Linked DNA regions of Homo sapiens: region 2 is linked to region 1. The links come from fine-mapping of genetic effects on plasma protein levels. Region 1 holds a variant in brackets. A gene starts in the other region. All regions are shown on their reverse strands. Region 1 has its middle 4.7 kb from the start of TNFRSF13C. Region 2 holds the start of TCL1A (TCL1 family AKT coactivator A).

What was found. PIP is the posterior inclusion probability: the model's chance that the variant is causal. Protein levels are from antibody-based Olink assays in UK Biobank. Linkage for the fine-mapping came from a reference panel and not from the study's own genotypes, which makes the PIPs less certain.
Region 2: TCL1A starts here. The variant in region 1 is fine-mapped to the plasma level of the TCL1A protein (UK Biobank, PIP above 0.99).

What each region holds. Positions count from the first base shown.
Region 1 is chr22:41,927,502-41,935,501 of GRCh38, reverse strand. It overlaps a transcript of CENPM not described here. Among named protein-coding and RNA genes, the nearest start is that of TNFRSF13C, 4.7 kb to the right of the region's middle. RefSeq lists enhancers at 2,426-2,933, 5,477-6,086, 6,087-6,697, 6,841-6,910. The variant C/T (reference allele first, on the strand shown) is at 6,489.
Region 2 is chr14:95,712,022-95,720,738 of GRCh38, reverse strand. TCL1A (TCL1 family AKT coactivator A) reads left to right here and starts at 6,614. Exons shown (of 4, transcript NM_021966.3): 1 at 6,614-6,792; 2 at 8,343-8,519. The coding sequence starts at 6,673. LOC107984703 (a long non-coding RNA gene) reads right to left here and starts at 5,256. Exons shown (of 3, transcript NR_148060.1): 1 at 5,032-5,256; 2 at 3,171-3,268. RefSeq lists a silencer at 6,360-6,599 and enhancers at 6,830-6,879, 7,994-8,213, 8,254-8,413, 8,454-8,553.

The DNA.
Region 1 (8,000 bases):
CAGCCTTCCCAGAGAGTGACCTTGTCTTTGGCCCTTCTGTCCTTGGCCAGAATGCGTGTCTTTGCAGGGTAACTGGAGGGTAGAGTAGGTCTTTGGCGGGGCTGATGGAATGGGTGTCCAAGCAGGGGAGGAAGGCGGTGTGGATGCAGCCTGCCTGATCTGGGATGTCACTTTTTGCTGGCGACCAGGAGGAGAGGCCTTCCCCCACACCCCCTCCCCCCCATGCCCGCATGGGGCACCTCTCTCAGGTCCCTGTGCCACATTTTCCTTGCCACCTGGTACCATTTAACAAGAGAAGTGGCATCGCATTCTCCAGCCAAGAGTCTGGGAACCTTCCAAGCACTGGGGAACACAGTGCTGTCACTGCCGCCAGCTCCCAGCTGAGCTTGGCAGGGGCCCTGGAACCAGGAGGCCTCCCCTCTAGAGTTGGGGGCTGGCCTGCCCCTGCCTCACAGCAGAGCTGAGCCACACTTAAATGGCAGGCAGGTGCCCTCAGACCTGCTGTCCCTGGAAGGCGGGGGATGGGTGGCCAGAGAGTGGGGTTGCTTCACGCCATCTGGAGACCCAGTGACATTGTCCAGGAGACAGTTTGGCTGAGGGAAGTAATGGAAGATCAGTGTGTGCCGGAATTGGGGCTTGGTACTGAGGTAAGGTGGAGGGAGATGGGAGAGGCTGGGCTTGGCTGCTTGCTTGGTGGCGTGACCTCAGGCAGGTCACTCACCCTCGGCAAGCCTCAGTTCCTCAGCTGTAGCGTGGCGCCAGGCTAACCGATGCCTTTCTTCCTAGCTAGTTGAGGACTGGCAATGAAGAAGCCACTATTTTATGTATTTATTTAGAGATGGGGTCTTGCTATGCTGCCCAGGCTGGTCTCAAATTGCTGGCCTCAAGCCCATTATTTTGAACATAAAGCTTTAAACAAATGTCAGATGCCTCAGGGTGGCCATGGTCATGACGTGGTCATTGCAGGATGTTGAAGGCGGGCAAGAACCCCCTAGGCCTACAGGCTGGGAATGGGGGGGCGAAGGCTACTGGAAGCGGCGCCTCTTCAGCTGGGCCTGGAAGCTGCCCCGTCCGTGCTCTTATAAGCTGGAAGGAAGGTGGTGTTTGGGCCCCACTCTTAGAGGAGTAGAGCTTACTCGGAGTCACACACTCATTTGTCCCCCTCATTCCACCTGGCTGTGAGCAGTCCTTGGGACCCCAGGGAGTTCACGTTCTCCATGGCCAGTGGTCCAGGCCCGAGTGTCCTGGCCTCAATCTGATGGTGTTTCCCATCCCTACCAAGGAGGCAGGACCTTCCTAGCAAGGAGGGGCTCTGCAGCCTGGGCCCCGTGTCTCCTGCACCCCCGGTGAGCAGAGGCAGGAGCAGCCCAGCTGCAGAGGGGAAGTGGTGCAGTGGGAACAGGAGCAGCCTCCGAGTCCCACCGACTTGGGGTCTGTGGCTGATCTGCAGTGTGACTTGGGGCAGCCCACTTCCCTCTCCAAGCCCCACTGCCTGCCCCCCTTTTCAGGTCTTGTGAGGCTTGGAGAGAAACTGAAGAGCCTGACTCCATGCCAGCCCTTCCACCCTCTACAGACAGTGGCTCGGTACGGGCTGGCAGGCTGGTGGGCGAGGAGAGCCGTGGGGTTCTTGAGACAAGGCCCTGTTACAGTTGCCCCCAACCCACACGCATCAGGGGTGCTGGGCCAGGCCTGCTGGCAGGGCTCGAGCACAAAGGGACGTTTTCTGGAAGGTTCTGTTGGCTTAGCCCCTCCCCTCCAGTGTACCCTGGGGTCAGAAGGACACAGGCAGAGAGTCTCTGTGAAAGAATGTCTCACACTTGGGGGCTGAGGGAGACAGTGGGGTGGGCTGCCAGGCTGTGTACCCTAAGTCTGCGGGTCCCACCTGAGTATGGGATGCTGTGGACTGGGGGCTGCTGAGGGCAGCTCCCTGGGGAGAGTGGGTAGGTACTTCCCAGAGCCCCGGACCTGCACAGGAGGCAGCCTTCCCTGGACCGCCCTCTTCCATCAAAGGGTATGCCAGCCGAACTTGGGGCCCCTGCGAGCTGGCCAGGCCCAAGGGGTCCCCCAGCCCTCCTCCTCCAATATGCTTGGCCAGCCTCCCTGTGAGGACACAGACCCCTGGGCCTCACCCCCACCCCCACCCCCTCTCCCTGCCGCTGTCCGCACACGGGAAGAGGACCCCACTGATGTGTGTAGTGTGGCAGGCTCAGGGGCTGCCTGGCGGGCCCCTTTACTCTAGCCTGCTTTCCCTCTTTGTAAAGTGGGACCAGTCGTGCTAGCCCCACACAGGGCTGAGGGAGGAGACGGCCGGGTAGGGAGATGCTTTGCGCACAGCCCTTTTCCTGGTCACTGGGCCTTCTCTGCTTCCCCCAGACATCCTTGGGGATCGCTCCACCCTGTCCTCTGTTCCGAGGTCACCATCCACCAGGCCTTCTCTGACTCCCCTGTTTGAAATTGCACCCATAACCCTCGAGCACCCTGCCCTTCTGACTTTTTCTCCCCAGCACTCCTTACCTCCCCACCCACTACGTTGTGTCCCATTTGGGTTTCCTCTCTGCTTCCCTGCTATTTCCCCAGAACCCAAAACAGCTCCTGGTGCCTGGTAGGTGCTAAGTGAGTGAGTGGCGAGTGACGGGGAGGCATCCGCGCAGGGGTCGGCCTCTGCGTTCACAAGGGCCTTCCTGCGTGGTACCCTGAATAAGGCCTGGGAGGTTGGCCCTGGGGGCCCCCGTTCCTCTCCCCCTTGCCTACCCTGGCCTTACAGCCTCCCTCTACTTCACACACCTGGCCCCCAAGAGGTGGGGGCTTTGCTCCCTGTGGCTAAAGGGCTGTGGTCTGCCCTCTAGTCTCACATGGAGGGCCCATGTCCTCTATCCCGGGGCCATGCTGAGAGTGGCTGGGGTGCCCTGGCCAGACCCTGTGGAGTGCAGGAGCGCGCGTGTGTGCGCACGTGTGCATGGAGTGGCGGGCTGGATGACAGGCAGCTCCAGCCCATGAAGACCCAGGCAAGGATTTGTGACTGCTTCATGGAAGGGCGTGACCTGCCCTCCCCTGGTGTGGGTTCGGGGAGGAACGGGATCTGGGGACTCCCAGGCCTCTGCCTCTGGGTCACACTGCTCTGGACTCGCCAGGACTTTGTGCTGATTCCGTGGCCACTCTGCCCTCTCCCAATGAACCGAGGCCCACGGCACTGCATCCTTTCCCCTGGCCCCAGCAAGAGGTACTCTGTAGCATTGTACTTGTTTGTGGGGGCTTTTAAATACAGGAGAAGGGAAAGGAAATAACCACAAGGGGTGGTCCTGGCGCTGTCATGAGACAAAATGGAGCCAAGAGAGCTGACTCGAAGCCCTGCAGGCCCAACCCAGCCAGCAGAGCCATCTCCACTGCTGACCCCATTCCTGGAACACGGGAAAAGCTGTTTGTGTGTACACCTACACGAGGGGGCAAAGGCACAGAACCAGGCAGTGAAGAAAGGCTCCCAAGGGAAAACAGAGACTCCCTCTGGGGACCGTGGGGAAACGCCCTTTGTCACTCATAGACTTCTGTATTGTTTGCAGGTTTTTCCTGAGCACGTGTTCAGGTACTACTGCATAATTACAACGAAAACTGATTTTGAAGTACAGAGTGCATCCCAGGCCCCAGAGCAGTTTCACATCCAGATCTGGGGGACTGGGCCTCTCTGTCCCCAAGGACTGCTCCCCATGACACTGTGCTTGTCCCATCCCCAGAGTGCTCTCACTTTCCCCAACCCCGTCCCTGAAGCATGTAGGGCCCAGGCCACGCTTCACAGTCAGGTGGACACAGACCCCCTGCAGGCCCCTCCCATCTGCTGGCTCATCTTGAGAGGGCCCTTGCCCCTTAAAGCCTCTGTTTTCTCATCTGGAAAATGTCCTAATAGTACCTGCATCAGATCCTTGTGAGGGTGTCTTCAGGAGAATTGGGGCACAAAAATCGACAGAAACCCCCTTCTCTCTGAAGACCCCAAACTATCTTGTTATTTTATTATTATTTTTTTTTTTTCTGAGATGGGGTCTCGCTCTGTCAGCCAGGCTGGAGTGCAGTGGCACGACCTCAGCTCACTGTAACCTCTGGCTTCCGGGTTCAAACAATTCTTCCTGCCTCAGCCTCCCAAGTAGCTGGGATTACAGGCGCCAGCTACGACACCCGGCTAATTTTTTTTTTTTTTTAAATTTCTTATAGAGAGAGGGTTTCACCATGTTGGCCAGGCTGGTCTCAAACTCCTGACTTCTGGTGATCCACCCGCCTCGGTCTCCCAAAGTGTTGGGATTACAGGCATGAGCCACCACACCAGGCCCAAATTATCTTTTTAAAAAGAGTATTCAGTGAATTAAAAGTAGAGCATGGTGGCCGGGTGCAGTGGCTCACGCCTGTAATCCCAGCACTTTGGGAGGCCGAGGCGCGCAGGTCGCTTGAGACCAGGAGTTCGAGACCAGCCTGGCCAACATGGTGAAGCCCCGTCTCTACTAAAATGCAAAAGTTAGCTGGGCATGGTGGCACGTGCCTGTTATCCGAGCTACTGGGGTGGCTGAGGCACGAGAATCGCTTGAACCCAGGAGGTGGAGGTTGCAGTGAGCCAAGATCGTGCCATTGCATTCCAGCCTGGGCAACAGAGCGAGACTCCATCTCAAAAAAAAAAAAAAAAGACTTGAATAAAGAAATTAGGCCAGGAGTGGTGGCTCATGCCTGTAATCCCAGCACTTTGGGAGGCCAAAGTGGGCAGATCACCTGAGGTCAGGAGTTTGAGACTAGCCTCCCCAACATGGCGAAACCCCACCTCTCCTAAAAATACAAAAAATTAGCCGGGCCTGGTGGCAGGTGCCTGTAATCCCACGTACTCAGGAGGCTGAGGCAGGAGAATCGCTTGAACCTGGGAGTTGGGTGTTGCAGTGAGCTGAGTTGGGTGTTGCTTATCGCACTGCTGTATTCCAGCCTGGGCGATAAGAGTGAAACTCCATCTCAAAAAAAAAGAAAAGAAATTAGGCCAGGCGTGTTGGCCAAGGTGGGTGGATCACTTGAGGTCAGGAGTTCAAGACCAGCCTGGCTAGCATGGTGAAACCCCATTTCTACTAAAAATACAAAAAAATTTAGCCAGGCATGGTGGCCCGTGCCTGTAGTCCCAGCTACGTGGGAGGCTGAGGCAGGAGAATGGCTTGAACCCAGGAGGCAGAGGCTGCAGTGAGCCGAGATCACGCCACTGCACTCCAGCCTGGGTGACAGAGCCAGACTCCGTCTCAAAAAAAAAAGGGACGCGGTGGCTCACGTCTGTAATCCCATCACTTTGGGAGGGCGAGGCGGGCAGATCTCGAGGTGAGGAGATCAAGACCATCCTGGCTAACGGTGAAACCCCGTCTCTACTAAAAATACAAAAAATTTGCCGGGCATGGTGGCGGGCGCCTGTAGTCCCAGCTACTCGGGAGGCTGAGGCAGGAGAATGGCGTGAACCTGGGAGGCGGAGCTTGCAGTGAGCGGAGATTGCGCCACTGCACTCCAGCCTGGGCGACAGAGAGAGACTCCGTCTCAAAAAAAAAAAAAAAAAAAAAAAAAAGCCACGGGGAAATAAGAATACATTGAGGAGTAAACTAACATTCCCCACATTGGTCTGATTGTGAATTCTTCTTAACTGTTTTGTCATCCAAGTAGCGACACAGGGCCTGCTGCAGCCCCCCACCCCCACCCCATTTAGGAGGCCCAAGTGGAAAGGTTCATGTGAGGCCAGGCACCTGCACACAACACAGACACGAATCCCGCAGGCCTTTTGTCCCGGCACCTGGCCCAGCACATAGGGAGCGCCCAGCAAACATTTGTGTCACATGAGTGGGTGTCTCATTTGTGTCTGCTGCTCTTAGCAGCTGGCCTCCCTCTCTGGCCAAGGTAAGGGACCCTGGAACTCTGACAGTGGGCTCCAGCCCTCCCACTCTCTCTGGCCTTGAGAGCAGTCTCCTCGAGTCTCTGCTGGGGGTCAGAGCAGCCAGTGCTTCTGCTGTGAAACGCAGACCTGGGGCAGGCGGACCCCCTCCTCCTAACTCCTGTAAATTCTCCCGACTCTGGCCTCACTGGGCCACCCTCTCCAGGGACAGGTTCCCCGTTCCTGGGTTCCCACAAGCCTCAGTCTGCCCACATGGCTGGCACAAGGGCTAAATGAGCTGCCTGGTACTCAGTCAGGCCTCTGCAGCCCTCACTAATGGGTAATACCAGCACCAACATGGATGGACGTGTATGTGGGTGGCAGGGTTATGGCTCAGTCTTCTGGCTTTGTCCCCACCTCTCTGCCTCACAGAGAGGCCTTCCCTGCCCTGGCTCCCCTCCAGGGTCCTGTCCCCCATCCCTGTACCGTACACCCACGCTCACCCACACCTGCCCCCACCCCCACATCACCATACACCCACGCTCACCCACACCTGCCCCCAGCCCCACTTCTCCTTTGCAGCTCCCCTCCGCCCACACCTTCCTGCCTGGGAGCTGCTGGC[C/T]CATGTACAGGGGATGGAGAGGGTGGGCCAGCGCCCACCAGTCAGGGCTGGCTGACTGGGGTTCTTTGTGAACCTTCAGGGTCTCCCAAGCTGGAAACCTGGGGGTCGGCCTTGCTCCCCTCACTCCATGGCCAGCCGCTGCATCATCCCCTGCCCTGGGCCACCTGCCCTGGACGTGGGCCACAGTGCCAGAGAGAGGGACCCTTGCAGGTACAGCTCAGAATCTCCCTCCTACCCAGACACCCCCAGGTTCTGTACTGCCCCGGGACTGGTGCCCTGCCCATCCGCAGCCCGGATGCTCCCTCCTCCCTCCCAGCATCCCCTGTGGCAGTGGCCATGCCTGCCCCCAGAGCAGCTCAGGCTCCCCTTTCATCTCTCCAAGCCTTAGCCCCTGCAGCCCTCCGCCTGGAGTGTTTGCCTCCCCCTCGCTGCTGCTCAGGGTCTCCCTCTGCCCCCAGGCTCCCTCCCCAGCCCCTGAGTTTCTCCTCTCACTGTGCTTCCCCAGCCCTGAGTGCTTAGGGGTCTGGGTGGCATGTGTGGCATTTAACCCCATGCTCTCTGCTGAGCCCTGAGCTCCCAGAGTTCCCTCCAGCCCTGGCCCTGGGGAGGGGGTAGCATGTGACCAGGAGGGCGGAGGGGCTTGTGTGTGTTTCTGAGACGCAGTCTGAGAGAGACACGGGTGACAGACAGTTGGGGACCCCAAACACTGGGGAGCAGAGATAGACAGGAGGGGCCCGCAGTGAGACACAGAGGTGAGCAGGAGAGGACACATAGCCCTGGAGAAAAGGAGCAGGTGTGGGCGGGCTTCCCTCCACTGCAGTCACAGTTCCCTCACTCATAGGCAGATCTTCCTGGGTCCTCCCTGCACAAAGCCCCAGTGGCTCCCTCGTGTCCCCCAGCCACAGTCCAAGCTCCCTAATGTGCTAGATAAGGCCCCAGTCCAGCCTTTCGGTCCCAGCACTCCCTGGACTTCCTGTTTGGGCCTCCAAGCCTTTGCTCCCCTTTGGCCTTCACCCCCATCTGCTCCCTAGACCTCAGTCCATCTGGCAAACACTTCACCATCGCCCTCTCCATGAAGCCTTCCGGCCCACCTTCCAGGATGACGTGAGCTGGTGCCCTTGCTGCGAGGCTGTCTTCCCCCATCAGCACAAGTGTGAGATTCCCTCAGGGCAGACCCACATGCTACTTGGGCCTGGTACAAGTGTCTGATGTCAGGCTGGGCACTGTGGCTTCACACCTATAATCCCAGCACTTTGGGAGGCCGAGGAGGGCGGATCACCTGAGGTCAGGAGTTCGAGACCAGCCTGGCCAAATGGTGAAACCCCACCTCTACTAAAAATACAAAAATTAGCCGGGCATGGTGGTGCATGCCTGTAATCCCAGTTACTCGGGAGGCTGAGGCAGGAGAATCGCTTGAATCTGGGAGGCAGAGGTTGCAGTGAGCCGAGATTGCACCACTGCACAGAGCCAGACTCTTTTTCAAAAAAAAAAAAAAAAAAAGCAGGTGTCTGA
Region 2 (8,717 bases), not on the chromosome of region 1:
AAAACTATAAAAAGAGACAAAGGTCATTATATAATGATAAATGAGTCAATTCATCAAGAAGATAAAATAATTACAAATGTATATACCCTCAACCTCAGAGCATCTAAATATATAATGCAAATATTAATAGACCTGAAGAGAGAGATAGACTGCAATACAATAATAGTAAGGGAACTTAATACCTCCACTTTCAACAATGGAGAGATCATCCAGAGAGAAAATCAATACAGAAATATTGAACTTGAGCTACACTTTAGACAAAATGGACCTAACAGACATATACAGAACATTCTATACAACATAAGCAGAATATATTCTCAAGAGCACAGAGAACCTTCTATAAGATAGATTATATGTTAGGCCACAAAACAAGTGTTAACAAATTTAAAAAAATTGAAATCACATCAGGTATCTTTTCCAATCACAATGGCATGAAACTAGAAATCAATAGGAGGAATTTTGAAAATTCACAAGTATGTGGAAATTAAACAACATGCTCCTAAACAACCAGTGGTTGAAGAAGAAATTACAAGGAAAATTTAAAAATATTTTGAAACAAATGAAAGTGGAAACACAACATACCAAAACATATGAGATGTAGCAAAAGCAGTTCTAAGATGGAAGTTTATAGCAATAAATGCCTACATCAAAAAAGAAGGATCTTAAATAAACAACCTAACATCATACCTCCACAAACTGGAAAAAGAAGAAGAAATTAAGGTTTAAATTAGCACAAGAATGGAAATAATAAAGATCAGAGCAGAGATAAATGAAATATACTAGAAAAACAGTAGAAAAGATCAAGGAAACTAGGAGTTGATGTTTTGAAAAGAGCAAAATCAATAGAGCTTTAGTTAGACTAAAAAGAGAAGACCTAAATAAACAAAATCAGAAATGAAAGATGAAACATTACAACTGATACCACAGAAATATAAAGGTTCATAAGAGCCTGCTATGAATAATGTTGTGCCAACAAATTGGATAAACTAGAAGAAATGGACGAACTCCTAGACATATATAACCTAGTAAGACTGAATCATGAAGAAACAAAAAATCTGAACAGAGCAATAACAAGTGAGAAGATTGAATCAGTAATAAAAAGTCTCCCATCAAAGAAAAGCCCCACAACCTGATGCTTCACTGCTGAATTCTACCAAACATTTAAAGAACTAATACCAACCCTTCCCAAGTGCTCCAAAAAATTGCAGAAGAAGGAATACTTCCAAATTTATTGTATAAGGCCAGCATTACCCTGATACTAAAGTCAGACAAGGACACTGCAAGAAAAAAATATATTACAGGCCAATATCCCTGATGAATATAGATGTAAAAATCCTCAACAAAATACTCGCAAACTGAATTCAACAGCACATCAAAAGGATCATTCATCATTATCAAATGATATTTATCCCAGGGATACAAGGATAGTTCAACGTGCACAAACCAGTAAAAGTAACACATCACATTAACAGAATGAAGGACAAAAACCATATGATCATCTCAATAGATGCAGAAAAGGCATTTGACAAAACTGAATATCCTTTCAAGGTAAAAACTCTCGACAAATTAGGTCTAGAAGGAATGTACCTCAGTACAATGAAGCATATATGACAAGTCCACAGCTAATGTCATACTGAATAGTAAAAAGTTTAAGGCTTTTTCTCTAAGATCAGGAACAAGAGAAGGATGCTCACTCTCACTGCTTCTAATCAGCACAGAACTGGAAATCCTAATCAGAGCAACAGGTAAAAGAAAGAAAAGGCATCCAAATGAAAAGGAAGAAGTTAAATTGTCTCGGTTTGTAGAGGACATGATCTTGTATGTATAGAAAACTCCTAAAGATTCCATCCAAAAGCTGTTCGAACTGATAAATGAATTCAGTAAAACTGCAGGATACAAAAACCAACATACAAAAATCAGTAACATTTCTATACACTAATAATGAGCTATGTGAAAAAGAAATTTTAAAAATCCCATTCACAATAGCTACAAAAAATAATAAAATACTTAGGAATAAATGTAAGCAATGAGGTGAAAGATCTGAACACGCAAAACTACAAAATACCCATGACAGAAACTGAAGAAGACACAAACGAATGGAACAATATCTCATGTTCATAGATTGAAGGAATTAAAATTATTAAAATGTTCATCCCACTCAAAGCAACCTACATATTCAACGCAATCCCTACCAAAATTCCAACAACACTTTCACATTAACAGAAAAAATAATCCTAAAATTCATATGGAACCACAAAAGGTCTGAATAGCTAAAACATTTTTGAACAAAACAGAAAAACAAAAACAAAGCTGTAGGCATCATAGCATCAGTAGGACAGTAACACCCAAGGTGTGGAGTAATCCCAGGATTGAGAAATGTTTCCAGTACAAATGTAGGTCAATTTTAACTTGCCTCTGGCAAATGGCAACCACAGTTGTAGCTCAAAGTGTCCAGTGCAATTCTATCACATCTTGGTCACTCGCTAGCTTGGCAGAATCAACTATTCGCTGCATTTTGAGTAGGGGTTGTGAGTTGTGTTTTTCATTTGTGTTTTGTGTGGGTATCAAGGGTAGCATGGGGGTTAGTATAGGTCCTTGCCACCCAGAGGTGATTTATAGACCATTAGTACCTGTATCAACTCCGAGGATATGAATATGTTACAAATTCAGAATCTTGAGAATCGCCTCAACCCTACCATATTAGAATCTGTATTTAAATAAAATCTCCATATACACCTTAAAGTTGGAGAAGCTTTAAGTTCCTTAGAACTGTTAATTTTAAAGAGAGAGATGATAGCTATGTAGTGGGCAGAGTAGGATCAGTCCCTAATTTCTACTTGAAATATCCTTGTCTCAGATTCTCCATTAATTTAGAGATACCATTTCATCCCTTATGAGTAAAGGCTACAACATCTTTTGTACCCTGAACTCACTTGATCAGCAGCCTTAATTATTTCAACTATGGCCCAGACCTAGGAACTAAAAAAAAAAAAAAAAAAACAAAAAAAAAAACAGGCTGGGCACGGTGGCTCATGCCTGTAATCCCAGCACTTTGGAAGGCCGAGGTGGGAGGATCACCTGAGGTCAGGAGTTCAAGACCAGCCTGACCAACATGAAGAAACCCCATTTCTACTAAAAATACAAAATTAGACAGGCGTGGTGGCGCATACCTGTAATCCCAGCTACTCGGGAGGCAGAAGCAGGAGAATCGCTTGAACCCAGGAGGTGGAGGTCGCAGTGAGCCAAGATCACACCATTGCATTCCAGCCTGGGCAACAAGAGGGAAACTCTGTCTCAAAAAACAAACAAACAAACAAAACACTCCAGGCATGGATGCCTTAATAGCTACATATATATCACAGATTCTGTGTTTTACACATTAGCAAGATCTCAGACCCTTATGATTCCAATAAACTTAGGGCTATGGATCCCTGACCACGAAGGATTGGAAGCAGCAAAGTAGGGCAAAGGGAAAGAAGTAAAATATGGAGTTGGGGTGAAGTTTACAATGAGAATTGATGGTAGAAAGAATAGCTTTGACATTTTCGTAGTTATTTAGATTTATAAATCTGTGCACACGTCAAAAACAGTCACTCAGATCTTAGAGAAATTGTACTTAACCCTGCCTACGTGTTAGCATCACCTACTTTTCTCAAGCCTCAATCTCGGAGATTCTGATGTAATTGGTTTGGAGTGGGATCCAGGCGCAGGTGTTTCATTAAAGCTTCCCAGGTGATTCTTAGTGGTTTAGGCTCAGTCATCATAGGGCCCAAAGGCCTAAACACCTAAGTAGCCTCTAAATAGGCTCTTTCCAGCTTGCTATAATCATTGACAATCAAGGACCCCAGGGTTGGTGAGGATGACCTTGGTTACTAGGATTTTCTTTTAAGAGGAAAACACTCTATATATTAGAGGTGATTTTGGCAGAAAATAAGATAGCCTGGAAGTAAATGATACACAAACACCGATATAAGTCCTGTGTCATAGTTGGAGAAATCTGGAGGGCACTGGTGTGTTGAATCAGACACCCCCTATCTCTCCCTCTTGACCCTCCCTCCATATAGCCCAACATTTACCATGCCCGTGAATCACCTGGGGGTCTTGTTCCAATACAGATTCTGACTCAGTAGTCTTGGGGGAGGCTCCAGATTCTGTCATTCTTACGAGCTCCAGGTGATGCTACTGTAGCTGGTCCAGGGACAACACTTTGAGTCAAGGTCATCCTGATGGCCTTGACTACTCCTCAACCCCTTCTTTGGAACCCAAACAAGAAGAATGGCTCCCATGAATTCCACTGGGGTCCTTGATCTACAGCCACTGTACCAAAAACTGTAGGCATTCCTGAACTAACATCATATATTTTGTCCATCTCTTTTCTTAACTATTCCCTCCTCCCACTAGGCAATGTTATAGGAGGATTGGGGCCTACTGAGTTAGAAACAAGCTTAGAGAGCAGGTATTTTGCCCCATTCATTACAAAACTATGGCACTGAGGCCAAGTTGCAAAGGATTTGTCAAGTTCACAGGTGATCGTGGTAAAGGCAAAACTAGATCTAAATCAGGACATGAACGCATCCATTAAGGATTCTGTCAAAATGATTGCTTCCTGTAGCTTTCTGTGTGAAACATCCATTTGCTTATCCTCAGGGAAATCAGACTAACAAAGACTTGGAAAGGAACATAAAATTCTAAAGCTAGGCTTATGGCCTTTATAACCCTTAGATGGGGCAGATAACATGCCACGGAGGCTCAGAGACAGCTCTGAGACTATGCAATAGCTACTGTTTCCCCTCTTGTGGAATGTTCACTTAAAAAAGCTCAAGGGCTCTATAAGTTGCCCAATGAACTCCACAGACATCCTTAATTCATTTTCATTTATTGGAACCCTCTCTCAAATAATTTTCTAAATCTCACGCAATAATGATGTATATTCTTGCTCAATATTAAGAAGCCCTCATGCAAAACTGAAGAAATAAATTGTTCTTACAAAAGAAGGAAAAAGGAATTATATTCTCAGAACATTCTGCTTACCCAGACACACAGATCTGATTCTTGCTCCATTGTTTGTGGCATTCTGGATCCTAGGGCCATTGATGAGGCTGGGTCAGTGGCCACACTGGCTCCTGGGTACCCCTTCCCTGGCCACAAAAGTCCATCCCAGCAGCACTATTTAAACTGGACTTATTTCTCACTTCACAGCTCTGGCCTGGGCTGAGACCTCCCCAACAGAGCTTATTAGCGAGCTTGTCATCTTGCTCTGTGGCTATCTAGGTCTGGAGTCAAGAGCCATTCACAGGAAAATCAGCATGAAACCTTTAAGTTTGCATATTAAATATTAACACCACTAAGGGCTACAGTGGAAAAGAGGTTTGCTGAGCTCAAGGGCCCTCACTCCACCCCCAACTTCCCTTGGCTTTTCTCTTCTATGTTGTGTTCCTGGTAAATCCCATTATGTCTCGACTACCTTAGGCCCTCTCAGCCCCTTCTTGGGAATTAGGCTCTCTGGATAGGCAAAGAGGCAGATACCCAGCTGCCAGGTGAATCAGATGTCCTCATCAGATCTCTTAATTTCCACTTTGGTGATATTTCAAAGGATCACAAATTATGTTCTTAGTGCCTGGTCAGAGAACTGGGAAAGAGCTGGAAGATGAGACACCAAACTCCATCCCATGGTGATGTTTGAACCAGGCTGGAGCTGGTTTCACATGTTTTTCATTGTGCATGACTTTCTTAATTGCCTTAGTGGGAATGCGTTACTGCAAAATAAAGTGAAATTGTTTTCCTTATTGCTTGTAATTTACAGAGGGGTGGTTTTGATCATATAAACCAGGCACTTTTCAAATCCATTGATCTTAGGGTGGAAGGAGGGATTTCTTTTTAAGTATTCATTTCGAACTATGCTTTCACTAGTAAACTCAAAGCCCAAGGGCAAAAACCCATGATTCTCCATTTTGTAATAGCTATTAGATGTCCACAGCACATCAGACCTGTGGAAAACGCATGCTTTGTGTATGGAAGAGGGAGAGGGAGCGTCAGGAGTTGTCCTTTGCCAAAAAACGTACTCTGACACTCAAAGGCACAGGCTGGTGGAGATCCAGGGAACCCGGGAAAGCCCAGGCCTAACTCAGGCCCGCGCGGGTCTCTTCTGATCCCATAAGATGAGGAGTGGGTCCTGGCTCTGGGCATCCTGGTGTCGACTGTGAGTTCCCAGCAGAGGCCCAGAGTCCCGGTCCGGCAGCCGAGGGAAGCGGGGGGGTCTTCCAGAAGAAGAAAGGGCCAAGGTCACCCCGGTGCCTCTCCAGCAGCAGCAGAGGGCGGCGGTCGGTGTCGCTGCTGGCCGGGGCCTCGAGGAAGGCGCGGGCCAGCTGGGGCCGGGTCTGCGTTCCCAGGAGCTGCCACCGTTCCAGGGAGCAAGTCAGGCCGGGACGTAGCGCCTGCGCGGGACCCTCACTTGCCACCAAGACCCCCACAAACCCCGCCCCATCCTGCCTTACGCCCCGCCCCAAGGTCGTTCTCCCGACCCGGGGTCCCGCCCCAAGGCCGTCCTCCCGCCCCGCCGCTTGGTGGCGGCCGCATGCTGCCCGGATATAAAGGGTCGGCCCCACATCCCAGGGACCAGCGAGCGGCCTTGAGAGGCTCTGGCTCTTGCTTCTTAGGCGGCCCGAGGACGCCATGGCCGAGTGCCCGACACTCGGGGAGGCAGTCACCGACCACCCGGACCGCCTGTGGGCCTGGGAGAAGTTCGTGTATTTGGACGAGAAGCAGCACGCCTGGCTGCCCTTAACCATCGAGGTACAGCCAGCTTTGGAGCGGATGGCGAGGCAGCAGGGGCAGCCCCTGGGAGCTTGGGATGCCCTAGGAAGGGCGAGGACTCAAGGAGCACTCACTATGGGGCAGGGAGGATCCCCACAGATGAAGCCACTTTGAGCCGGGCTCTGGAGGATGAATAGGAGTTCTCCAGGCAGGGAAGAAGGGTGGGAAAACCGCAAAGGAATGTCGGTCAAAGGGGTGGACCCAGTGCCTGTGGAGTGTGACTATAATGTTGACTACAGCAGGCATTTTCTGGGCTTCGGGGTCCTAATCCTTAAAAATGGGTATCTCTAAGTGACTCATCCATATGGCCGATTATCGGAATCATCTCAGGTGGGTCCCAGAAATCTGTATTTTTAAAAAGAACCCTCAACAGTTTAGGGTCAACCAGGCATAGCAAACACTGGCCTAGAGTGTGAAGTATTTTCCACTACCTCTGGGCTTTATTTAGAAAACAAATTTAACAAGTGATGTCGTAGTATAAGCGCCGGTATTGAATCAATATTGACTTTTTTAATGTGTGATGCCTTAAGATGGGTCCTTAATCCATGTTAAGTTTTTGTTAAAGAAATAGATAAGTCTTTTACAAGTATTTGGATTTACTCAATGAAAAAGAGTCAAAAAATGTTCAAACTCTCTCCAAACATACACTGAAGAAAGCATAAAAATTAAAAAATATATTAGAACACGTATGTCCAGTAGCAATCAAAAATTATTGAGTGTTGACTGTGTCTCTACAGATGGGAAACTGAGGCACAAAAATGTACATTTGTCCGAGGTAAGATTGCTAGTAGGTAATGGGGTTGGAATTCTAGGCTCTTAACCACCACAAAATCTGCATTTTTATTGGCATTTCAATTTTTTAAATATGTTTTTACTTTAAAAATCAAGTTAAATACTTACTTTTTTAAAATCAAAATTTGAAGAAATAATTTGAAGATTCAGTGGATTTCTTTTTTTAAATCTCTGAGAAATCTCTTCTTCAACGTGACACCAAAACCACGAACCAGACAGTTTTTCATAAAATCATGATACATGCTCCACAAAAAATAACCCACTAGCAAACTGTGGGACAGATTTTGCCTCACATCATTGAAAAGGCCAGTATTCTTTTTCTCTCTTTCTTTCTTTGTTGTTTTTTTTTTTTCCTGTAGATACAGGGTCTCGCTCTGTGACCCAGGCTGGTCTTAAACTCCTGGCCTCAAGCGATCCTCCTGCCTCTGCCTTCCAAAGCACTGGAATTACAAGTGTGAGCCGCTGCAACCCGCCAGAAAAAAGTGTGCCTTTCATGGCCCTGTCTGGGTGGCTAGACACGTGTGTGTGCTGGTGGTCCTGGCCCAGCCAGAGTCCCTGAGAGGAGCATGCATGGCCTAAGGAAGTGAGCTTCAGGGAACAGTGATGACCATCATTTCACACTCGGACCCCTGCCCAGATGGGTGGATGGCTGGCAGGAGGGATTCCGGTTTTCTGCGCCTGGAGAAGCCCTGGCAAGCGGAACCTGAAAGTATGCCCTGTCCTTTTCTTCTCCTCAGATAAAGGATAGGTTACAGTTACGGGTGCTCTTGCGTCGGGAAGACGTCGTCCTGGGGAGGCCTATGACCCCCACCCAGATAGGCCCAAGCCTGCTGCCTATCATGTGGCAGCTCTACCCTGATGGACGATACCGATCCTCAGACTCCAGTTTCTGGCGCTTAGTGTACCACATCAAGGTGAGTGTCTTTCTCCCAGAGGTCCATCGGGTGATCTTGGGTTTGCCCTCCTCCATGTCTGGCCTTAGTGGTTTATCTTCCCTCCATCCCAGTCCCAAAAGCATTAAAAAATGGGGGAAATGTACAAGTGCAGATTTCTAAAGGACTTTACCAGAGAGAAGATAGATCCTCTGAGGTCTCTAACAGAACCCTACCTCC